3 linked regions of the Homo sapiens genome follow. The gene in region 2 interacts genetically with the main gene of each other region. Each region holds a gene or a part of one and is shown on either strand. Other genes may lie near its edges.

What was found.
Region 1: changes in KDM6B (region 2) and PRMT7 together harm fitness more than expected from each alone (negative genetic interaction), as found in Homo sapiens cells (one large-scale study listed by BioGRID).
Region 3: changes in KDM6B (region 2) and KDM3A together harm fitness more than expected from each alone (negative genetic interaction), as found in Homo sapiens cells (one large-scale study listed by BioGRID).

Annotation. Positions count from the first base shown.
Region 1 is NC_000016.10:68,317,428-68,321,075, reverse strand, and holds part of PRMT7 (protein arginine N-methyltransferase 7), read right to left. Parts: intron 1-3,648. UniProt on the Homo sapiens protein: Arginine methyltransferase that can both catalyze the formation of omega-N monomethylarginine (MMA) and symmetrical dimethylarginine (sDMA), with a preference for the formation of MMA.
Region 2 is NC_000017.11:7,844,150-7,847,797, reverse strand, and holds part of KDM6B (lysine-specific demethylase 6B), read right to left. Parts: intron 2,922-3,648; coding exon of another isoform or gene 2,859-2,921; 5' UTR 2,778-2,858; intron 2,485-2,777; 5' UTR 2,345-2,484; coding exon of another isoform or gene 2,270-2,344; intron 2,249-2,269; 5' UTR 2,244-2,248; coding exon 2,107-2,243; intron 1,927-2,106; coding exon 1,828-1,926; intron 1,721-1,827; coding exon 1,501-1,720; intron 1,399-1,500; coding exon 1,306-1,398; intron 1,220-1,305; coding exon 1,058-1,219; intron 980-1,057; coding exon 782-979; intron 694-781; coding exon 346-693; intron 253-345; coding exon 1-252. Other genes in the region: translation initiation factor IF-2, read left to right, coding at 2,270-2,344, 2,859-2,921. UniProt on the Homo sapiens protein: Histone demethylase that specifically demethylates 'Lys-27' of histone H3, thereby playing a central role in histone code. Demethylates trimethylated and dimethylated H3 'Lys-27'.
Region 3 is NC_000002.12:86,489,771-86,493,341, reverse strand, and holds the end of KDM3A (lysine-specific demethylase 3A), read right to left. Parts: intron 2,462-3,571; coding exon 2,285-2,461; intron 2,202-2,284; coding exon 2,067-2,201; intron 1,304-2,066; coding exon 1,223-1,303; 3' UTR 626-1,222; downstream 1-625. UniProt on the Homo sapiens protein: Histone demethylase that specifically demethylates 'Lys-9' of histone H3, thereby playing a central role in histone code.

The sequences.
Region 1 (3,648 bases), on a different chromosome or scaffold from region 2:
GCTGTTCTCGAACTCCTGACCTCAACTGATCCGCCCACCTTGGCCTCCTAAAGTGCTGGGATTACAGGTGTGAGCTACTGCGCCTGGCCTATTTTTTTGTTTATTTTTAGAAACAGGGTCTCGTTATGTCACCCAGGCTGTAGTGCAGTGGCTATGAACAGCCTCAATCATTGGGCACTGCAGCCTTGAACTCCTTAGCTCAAGAGATCCTCTTGCCTCAGCAGAACTACAATACAAGCATCCGTCGCTGCACCTGGCCACTTTATTTTAATAGAGTTTCAAGCTGTTATTCTCTAGTGCTGCAGAAAAAAGTCTCAGAGAAAGATGTTCTCAGACCTAAAAATGCTCCAGTAGTTAGCTGCTGGGAACAGGCCCCCAAATCTGGCCAAAAACAGGCCCCAAAACTGGTCATAAACAAATCTCTGCAGCACTGTGACATGCTCGTTGATGGCTATGATGCCCACACTGAAGGTCGTGGGTTTACTGGAATGAGGGCAAGGAATACCTGGCCCACCCAGGGCGGCTTTCGCTTAAGGCGTTCCTGAACCACAAACAATAGCATGAGTGATCTGTGCCTTAAGGACATGTTCCTGCTGCAAATAACTAGCCAGAGCCCATCCCTTTGTTTCCCGTTTTAATCTATAATCTATAGGAACAATGCTTATCACTGGCTTGCTGTCAATAAATATGTAGGTAAAGTTCTGTTCGTGGCTGTCAGCTCTGAAGGCTGTCAGCCCCCCAATTCCCACTCTGCACTCTATATTTCTGTGTGTGTGTCTTTAATTCCTCTAGCGCCACTGGGTTAGGGTCTCCACGACCGAGCTGGTCTCGGCAGTTAGCCCTGTCACAGTAATTCCACAGCCACTAGCATCTTGATCTTGCTATACACTACACATTTTCCTCCTCAGGAAAAACTCAGACTCAATCTGCCTAATACTTGACCTAACCTGGCCTACATCTCTGCCTGGAGATAACCACTGATGCGGTATTAGGGAGAGCAGCCGGGGAAAGAGAAGCACTCACATACACCCACTGTATATGTGACAGGTACCCCACTGGGCACGTTCACTTAACATCATCAGGGAAAACTAAAGAGTTCACCAATACCGTAGTAAAGGGAGGAGAATCACTTCTCCATATTTCCTACTGCAGTAATTCACACACTGAAAACCCTCAGGCGGGGTCGGGATGAGCACCCAGAACTAGGCAGGCCCTGCCACGCTTTCTGGGAATTCAAGGGGACAGCTAAGGAGCTCACATTAAAACAGAGGCCCTCCAGCCTTGGGTCAACACTAGAATCACTAGAAAGCTTACCTGAAATGCAGAGTCCCAGAACACACACACACACACACACACACACACACTCTCACTCTTATTGAGAAGGCTGGGCTAATGTGCTCCAGGCAATTGTGCCACAGGTGGTCCACATTCCACACTTTGAAGAGCGGTGCACTGAAAGAAGGGGGTTCTTTTTTTTTTTTTTTTAATGGCACATCAAGGTTTTATATCTGAAGCCAGCTATGGATGCTTAGCTGAAATGTAGTCCTTTCTACCTCTGCTCACTATTTAAAAGGCATCTCACTCACCACCTTCCTGGCCTCTTCACACTTACTGCCCACCACTCCACTGACATCACTCTCGGTAACCACCACCAGCTCACTCCTGCAGCTGATGTCAGTCATCAGTATCTGGGACTTCCCAGTGCCTCTGACCTTGCTAGACACACTCCCTCTTTCTTCCTTTCCATGCTGGCTATCTCCCTTGCCCTTCTTTGCCTCCTCAGCTATTCCGGGATTCCTTCTTCAGCCCTCTACCTTTCACATTCCACACCCCCTTGAGAGACTGCAACCTCTCCCAGTTTCAGTTCCAACAACTACAAATTCTGTCTCCAGACCCAAAATTCTATCTGCCATTGGCATCTCTATGTGGATGTCCAAACCTAAACGCCTAATCTCCATCGTGTTCCCCTCCCCACACCACCCATTCCTCCCTTGCAGGCCCCATCCACTTTGTCATTCTAACCAGAAGTCTTGGTGCTTCTTGAATCTTCTCTCTCCCTCCATCATATCCAGTGAGTTACCAAACTCAAGTTCCCCCGAGCTGTCTCCTCTGGGACTATGCAGCTCTGGGACTACAATATCCCCAAATGCTCTCCTCTCCACACCGCTCTCAGTGAGTGTTCCAAAATGCAATCCAATCCTCTTTCTCTCCTGTTTAATATATCACTCAGAAAATAACGTCCAGGCCTGACACTGTGGCTCACACCTGTAATCCCAGCACTTTGGGAGGCAGAGGCAGGTGGATCACCTGAGGTCAGAAGTTCAAGACCAGCCTGGCCAACAGGTGAAACCAAGTCTCTACTAAAAACACAAATATTAGCCAGGTGTGGTGGCAGATGCCTGTAATCCCAGTTACCTAAGAGGCTGAGGCAAGAGAATCCCTTGAACCTGGGAGGCAGAGATTGCAGTGAGCCGAGACTGCGCCACTGCACTCCAGCCAAGGCAACAGAGTAAGACTCCATCTGAACAATAAAACAAGAAAATAATGTCCAAAATGTTTAGAAATATTTTAAGACCTGGGCAGGTGCAGTGGCTCACGCCTGTAATCCCAGCTCTTTGGGAGGCCGAGGCGGGCGGATCACAAGGTCAGGAGATCAAGATCATCCTGGCTAACACGGTGAAACCCCGTCTCTATTAAAAATACAAAAAATTAGCCGGGCGTGGCAGCGGGCACCTGTAGTCCCAGCTACTCAAGAGGCTGAGGCGGGAGAATGGCGTGAACCCAGGAGGCGGAGCTTGCAGTGAGCAGAGATCGTGCCACTGCACTTTAGCCTGGGAAACAGAGCGAGACTCTGTCTCAAAAAAAAAAAAAGAAAAAAAAGTAAATATTTTAAGCCCTAATTCTGCACCAGATACTGTATTACATTTAATCATCAAACAATTCTAAGATAATTGTATTATACTGTGAGATAATGTATTACTATATTGAAGTATATATTATTTTATATTAAGGCTCAGAGAAGTAACTTGGCCAAGAGAGTAAAGAAGTGGCAAAGCTTGGACTTAAACTCATGTTCCTCTTCCTGCATTTTGCTACCACCCTTTACAAAATGACCCCGCGTATGCTTTCGGCAGCCTCTCTTACCATAGTACTTTTGTACCACACTCCAGCTGCACTAAACTGCTAGCTGCTCCCCAGAATAGCCCATCTGTGTGTGTGTGGTTTTTTTTCTTTTTTTTTTTTTGAGACAGAGTTTAGCTCTTGTTGCCCAGGCTGGAATGCAATGGCACGATCTCGGCTCATGGCAACCTCCGCCTCCCAGGTTCAAGTGATTCTCCTGCCTCAGCCTCCCGAGCAGCTGGGATTACAGGCATGCATGCGCCACCACACCTGGCTAATTTTGTATTTTTAGTAGAGACAGGGTTTCTCCATGTTGGTCAGGCTGGTCTCGAACTCCCGACCTCAGGTGATCCGCCCGCCTTGGTCTCCCAAAGTGCTGGGATTACAGGCATGAGCCACTGTGCCCAGCCTGTTTTTGGTCTTTGTTTGTTTGTGAGACAGTGTTTTACTATGTTGAACTCGTGGGCATAAGCAATCCTCCTGCCTTGGCCTCCCAAGTAGCTGGGACTACAGGTGTAGGCCACTGCA
Region 2 (3,648 bases):
CTCTTCTAAGATCTCTCCATCCTCTCGGGCTGCCCGGCAGGCCGGACCCTTCAACCAGGCAGGGGGTGGTGGGGGGCGTAAGAGGCGGGGACAGGGGGGTGGAGGGGGTGAGGAAGGTCCAGGTGGCAGGGATAGGTGGGGAGTGGCAGCGGGAGCCCCCAAGAACGGTTTCCGACTGCTGTGTGCCGAGGGCCCCAGGCGGCCATGGTGAGAGACCTCCAGCGCGGGAGTTTGGTAATGGTCAGCGCCGGGCTGCAAGTGTAGAAGCAGGTGGTAGGAGCATTGCTCGGGCTGCCTCAAGACAAGCTCCACCCATCCCCCCCTCCACCCTCAGTTGTCACTCACAATGCCTGGGTTCGGCTCCACGCCCCGGAGACCAGTGTTGCTGCTGCTGCTACTGCTGCTGCTGGTGGTGGTGCCGGGGAGGCCAGGGGGCCGGGAAGGGGCGTAAGGCACGCAGGCGGTGGTTGCTGCTGGTGAAACGCTGGAGTCCATCCGCGACCTCTGAACTCTGCTCTCTCTAAGGTCACTTCCGGGGGGACGGGTGGCAGGCAGGCAGCCATGGCTCTCTGCTCCTGGGGGGCGGGGGCCTGGGCCTGGGGGAGCAGCCGGGACCAGCCGGTGGCCAGGGGGGTGCGCGGTGTACGCTGGAGCTGGGTATGGATATGGGTGAGGCAGCGAGTGCCGCTGCTCCTATAGGAGATAAACAGGGATGCAGGATGAGGAATAGAGAGCGTGGGACTTGTAGGTGAGAGGTGAAAGGCAACAGGCAGGGGCTCACCTGGCGCTCTGGGGGTGCTGAACCCTTGCGCTCTGGGCCCCAGGCATCTCCATGCAGGGTACTCCACAGCCCTGGCTTGGTTAGCTGAAATGGGGGGCTGGTAGCCAGGCCAGGCAGGGGTGGTGGTGGTGGTGGTGGTGGTGGTGGTGGTGGTGGTAATGGTGGTGGAGGCAGTGGCAGCCCTGGGGGAAGGCCAGTCTAGGAGAGAAGAGAGTGTGAGAATCCCATTCCCAAGTCCTGCCTACTTACTGCCTGCTGGCCCCCCTATACCCACACCTGTTCAGAGTTGCAGCCTCTCCTTCGCTTGCCTCCAGGGCTGAGGCCCTCCTCCCCTGAGGGGCCTGAGAGTGCTGCAGGAGGCACAGGCTGCACCACTGGGGGTTCAGCAGCTCGCTTCACCGGGGGACCTCCCCGCTTGGCTCCATAGTTCCGTTTGTGCTGAGAACAAAAAGAGAGAAGAGAAAATGGCACGGGTGCAGGCACAGCCTGGCTCTCCTCCCTAACCCACCCAGTGCCAGCCTCACCTCAAGGTGTAGCAAGTTCCACACTTGCTCCAGTGGGGGCAGGACCTTGGCTCGGTGCTGGCAGGAGCCAGTATGAAAGTTCCAGAGCTGGGCCTGGGGGTGGGGGGACACGGGGCAGGGGCAGATGTCAGGTGGGGCACTGAGCCAGAAGGCACAATCGTACAATCCCGTCCCCCACGCCCTGCCTTCTCCTACCTGCTGCAGTCGGCCAATGCGGGGCCCCAGCTCAGCGAAGCTTCCTCCGTATCGAAGGGCGCTGTGGTAGCAGCGTGTGGCCTCCTCACTATCGTGCTCTGACTCGTACAGTTGCCCAAGCTGTTCCCAAAGCCCTGGCTGGGCTGGCTCCCGGAGCAATGCCTGCACACAGCCATGCAGGGATTCCAGCTTCCCATGGAGGGGTCTTGGAGTGGGCGCCCTACAGAGCAGAAGGGGTGGGGGTGTGGGTGGGGGTTGGGCTTGAGGGGACTCTTTCAAGGCCCCAGCCTTACCTCCCACTCCCAGAACCTTCAAATATCCACTCACCCTGGAGCATAATATGGTTTGCTGGGGTGCCCAGAACTACTGCCATGTGAAGGGGGTAGGGGAGCAGGAAGCGGGGGCTGCCCAATGCTGGCTGAGCATCTGGAGAGAGAAGGAGTCTGTTATATACGGCAAAAAGGAGCAGTCTTGTCCTACCTAGGCAGGAGGGGGCTGATGCACGGAAGCCCACAGAATGACAGGAACCCATGGAGAATGACACAGATTGAGGGATACAGAGATGGAAAGAGGTGTGCCTGGAGACAGAGGGCCCCAACTTCTCACCTGCCTCCAGGCAGCCATGCGCTACGAGGAGGGGGATGAGGCGGGCAGGAGCTCCAGGCCCCAGCACAGCTCAGGCCCCCAAGGGCAAAGGCTTCCCGTGCAGCGCGGGCCCCTGGAGGGTCCACTGCCCGATGCATCCAGCCTGAGTTGGGGATAAGAAATTATGCTCTTACTGGAGGCAAAACCAGAGCTGCCAGTGTACATCCAGCCAGCTCGGCCCCAGAGTTTCCCTTACCAGGTCAGCAGTGGCCCCAGGAGCCCTGGAGATTGGGCACGGCCCCCTGCCCCAGCTCTCTGGGACGATGGTCCGGCTCCAGCCGCTCTGATAAGAGTGCCCGCTACCCCCAGATGGCTGCCTCAGTCCTTTCACAGCCAATTCTAGAGAGAAGGAAAAGGAGTGAGACGAGCTGGCCAGCACACAGTCAAGGCCCAGGGGCTGGGATGGGCGGACTGTGGCATCCACCAATTTGTCATTTGTGCAAAGGGCCCGGCCTTAGCTTTCCCCAAAGGGAGGCCCGGCCCAACCACTCCCTAGAGGCCCAGGAGTGTGGCTGGGAGTCAGGACGTGTGTGGCAGGGAACCAAAAGGCCGGTCAGAGGGACGGGGTGGCTGCGCTGCCAGGCTTCCAGTCCGGAGCCACTGGGCCGACCCAAAACGCAGCGGCCGCTTACCCGGCCTCCGTGGGAGCGTCCTCACACCGCGTCGGCAAGCTCCAGAGATCTGGCCAATCACAGGACTTCCTCTCTCCCCAGAAAGCCAATCATCACCCGTGTCTCCGCCTCAGTAACAGCCTGGCCGGAACCAATGGGAGCGAGGTGAGCCCGGCAGCGGTGGCCGGGGGAGGAGGGGCGCGGGAGCCGGTCAGACGAGCTCAGCCCGGGGTGACCCCGATGTGACCCCGCGGCTCCCACCTAGGGTCCCCATCTAGGATCCGACACTCCGGCCGTCAGGGCCAGAAGGCAGCCAGGACAAGACGCATGCGGATGAGGCCGGTTAGTCGCATGCTCCGGCCGGCGTGGGGGCCGGCGCTACCCGCAAGCCTCAAGCACCCAGAGCCGCCGGTGGCCACGGCCAGGCTGCTCGAGTAGCCCCACGCCCGGCCACCGTAAGACCGACGGACGACAGACGGATGCAGAACGCAAAAAAGACGTCCCTCCCCTTCCTCACTTCACCTCGCCCAGTGACAGACCTCCCTACCCCGAGCGCCCCTATTAACTGCTTAGGGCTGGCCAGCCACAGCGACTTCCACGGCACCCAAACCCGTCCGCGCCGCTATCGGCGCTCCACCCCCAACGCCTGACCCCGACCCAAACCTTGGTCAAGCCCCCAGTCTCATACCCAGTTCCTCCAGGTCCTCTACTTCCCCTGGCTTTCTGGGTCTTCAATACCGACCGACCCCCAAAATCAGACCCCTTTTAGTCCCCCAACTTCCGAGAAGTCGCGCACCGCGGTCCCGAGTGGCCCCTCTCTCGTGGCTCGCGTATCCTCTCTGCCCTTCCCCGCCGGGGCCACGCGGTTCCCCACGGCCCACGTGGCCCCCGC
Region 3 (3,571 bases), on a different chromosome or scaffold from region 2:
AGAAGAAAACATTAGAGCAAATCTTTGACCTTAGATTTGACAATGGGTTCTGAAATTTAATACGGATCCTCTGGCCTCCTACTCAGCTCACAAATTAAAACTCAGGTTCTAGGCTTTGTCTATGTACTATCTGATTTCTATGTTTAATTCCTTTTTTTAAAGAAATTAAATGAAAGAGTGGCCTAGGAGAATCAGTGGGCTAAAGAAAGGCGCTTCTTTGTGAATTTTTTTCCTTCACAGAGATGAATATTTTAGGTAGTACTGTCCTAGAACTTATAATTTCATTTTCCTTCATAAACTTAACATTATGAAGGGCCATAAAACAAAGTGTTTCATTACTTACCTTTTTAGAACCATTTAGCCTGGCACTATTTGGTTTCTTGGTTAATTCCTGTTTCTAAATTTAATTAATTGGTGGTGTTTCCTTGACAAAGTGTGACAGGGTTTCTACCTGGCTGAGCAGAAATTTCCATGTTAGCTTTGTAATAATCACTAAGAAAATCACTATAGCATCTGATTTCTTTGCTTTTAAGAAGAGTTCTTGGAGCAATCCATTACACCTGCATTTGAAGAAAGTTGTGTTGAAACCACAATGAGAGGATAATGCCAATAAACTGAGCCAAAATATTATATGAATATTTTAATGCAAAATGCTTAACACTTAAAATTAGCAAAGCGTCATTTAAATTAAAATTCCATTTAACTAAAGATGGTTAACCCCAAGAAATTGTACAGTAGTTGATTTCTGCTATATAATGCCAGTCCTATGCCATACAATAAGAACTGCAACATTAGCTGTCACTTCCTCCATTGCTCTTCTGGACCCTAAGGGATGAGGGAGGGGACTCAGACACAAAACACAACCCAAATAAACTGTGCAGTGATTCCTAATAGTTATAAACCCAATCTAAGTTGTCCAAACAGCTGAAGAATAACTGCAGGTATTGTTCCAGAGCTGATACGAGGTTTTGCTTTTACAGCCTGGTAAAAGTTCTGCACTAGGTGAGAAGTCACAGTTTAAGGATGCATGTTCTGTAAATAGTTACTACATATACACATTTACTGTCTGTAAACACTAGAAATATACATTAGACAGAGTACCCTCACAAGTTGGGTACAGTTTAAAAAAGAAGATGAGGTAACATGAATCTCAAAGTCCACAGGAATCCTGCCTGAAGAGTTTGAACAGCTGCCTGTAATTCATTTCCAATGTGCAGGGAGATTAAGGTTTGCCAAAACTGGATTCACTGGCTTTCAGCATAGCAACTGCATCTTTCACTGCATGGTAGATAACATTCTTCACCTAAAAATAGTAGGAGAAAATATGGGCATTTTACATTTAAATCTAAAACCTGTCACTAAGAATAAGCTTCCTCCTACTAATTTTATTACCTTCTCTCAGAATTTAAAATTCAATATTCGTATGAAATGTCAACATTGCAAAAGGTCCCTGGGCTCCTTCAGACCAGTATTTCACATACATTTTAAACCCATGATTTCAAGAACTCATTTTCCCCCTTTTAGAGGTTTTGATACCACGTAGACCTACTCACAGTGAGTACAGGGAGAGGCAAGTTCCAAGGTACAGCTTTTATCATTTTTCCCTTATTTTCCAAACATGAAATTATGTTACATAATTCATTACTGAAATCCTTTTGAAAATACCACCCCCTCAGACCTCTTTGAGTCTCAGAGATTCAGTTCTGCTCTACCTAAGAGTGATGAGAACACTGCAGCACTGAAGGTTAAGCACTGTGTTCAAGACCCCGACAGGCAGCTGGGCCAAGATCAGAAGTCACATCTATTCATTTTCAGTACTAAGGCCTTTCTCTGTGGGGACAGTCCCTTATAGATTCTAAACAATATCAAATCAAACCAAGGTGAGATTTCCTCTTGTTCCTCCCTCACTTAAGTAGATAGTAGTACTAGATATAAAGCAAGTTCCTCGACTCACTGTGTACTAAGTACGATATGGCCAAGTTCACTGACTCTCTTTATAAGGTGAAGAATGGGCCATGAAGCCATAGCCATAGCCAAAGAATGCTAGGAATTGGTGCTATTTTTACCTGTAATTTATCTTCGTGATTGGTATGAGTCTGTGACAGATATCGGAATTCCTGAGTAAGCCAGAAGCAGTGTTTAACATGCTCTGGAGAAACAAAATCTTCAGCCACTTTGATGCAGCTATATAAGTTATGAACCTGAAAAACACCAAGTAATATATCAGTAACAAACCCAAAAGTTCATGACATAAAGAGATTAAAGAAAAAGTAATGATTCTTGCCTGATGTGGAGCTCCTGCCGGGATAAACACCACATCCCCAAGAAACTGTACAATAGCCCAGCCTTGAACTCCATACTCTTGATGAAGACGTTTTCTTAATGATCGGTCTAAATACCAGCTTTGATCATGAATAGGATCGTGGTCTGCTGGGTTTTCTTGACCTTGCTCTTCTGATACCTAGAATACATTCAAAATATTATGCAACTCAGTAACATGCTAAGGCCCAATAAGCCATTTTTTTCCTCTAAACAGTGTTGGCAGTTCATAAATGTCAGGCCTTCTTCAACTTAAGTGCCCCCATTGGCAGAAGACGACTAGTAGTATCAAAGACTTCAGCTGAATGAACCAACAGAAGAATGACGAAGAAAATGTGATGTCAGTTCCCATAAACCATGACTGACAGGCTCTGCATAAGTTTGTAAATACTGTATTTAAACAATATTTTAGTCTAGATTTTTAAACATAAGTAGGCTCAGTATCCTTATAAATGAACTTGTTTTAAAGTTATTAGAAACCTGCCTTTACTTAATCTGACTTACGAAACAGTCCCAAAGACAGCTGCAGATTAGACTTGTTTATCCTTGATCCAGTAACTGGTAAAGCAGAGACTCAGAGTGACAATATCAAAAGAACAATATGGTGACCAAGCCGGTTTTCTGGAAGAGCCAAATGATCCTTAGCCAGAAACACTTTGATTCAAACAAATGCTTGTTAAAGACATACTTGGGGCCAGCTAACAGGTTACGAATGTTCATATCCAAGACTCATGAATGACTGAAGAATATCAGCCAAAGACACCTGAGTTGCAACCGGCAGCCTCAGTGCCAAACAATTTTAAAACTGAACACGACTCATCTTTCTAGTTGCCTAGAATTTCCACACATAGCCCTTGCTGAAAAAAAAACCTGCCAACTACAGGGGAAACCTAGAATCTTCCAAATCCCTGCAACCCTTGCTAGTAACAAGTAGGACCACTTGCTACATGACAGTGGACAAAACCAAACTTAGCAACTCACTCAGAACATGGTCACTCAGGGCCAAGGATACATGAACGTCTGAAGTGCTCAGATTCTCAAGGCAATAAAAACAGATATATGCTGGGAGATGATCAGATGAACTAACTTCTAACTTGAAAGCAGAGAACAAAAATCTCTAAATGCACTCTAACACAAAACACAGACATAAAAGACAAGGCCTGCTTTTTTTAGAAGTGTAACCCTAATCATTTAGAATCCTTGTTCCTTAGCAACCACCTTCAGCCTATTCAATCTGACAGGTACAGATTTA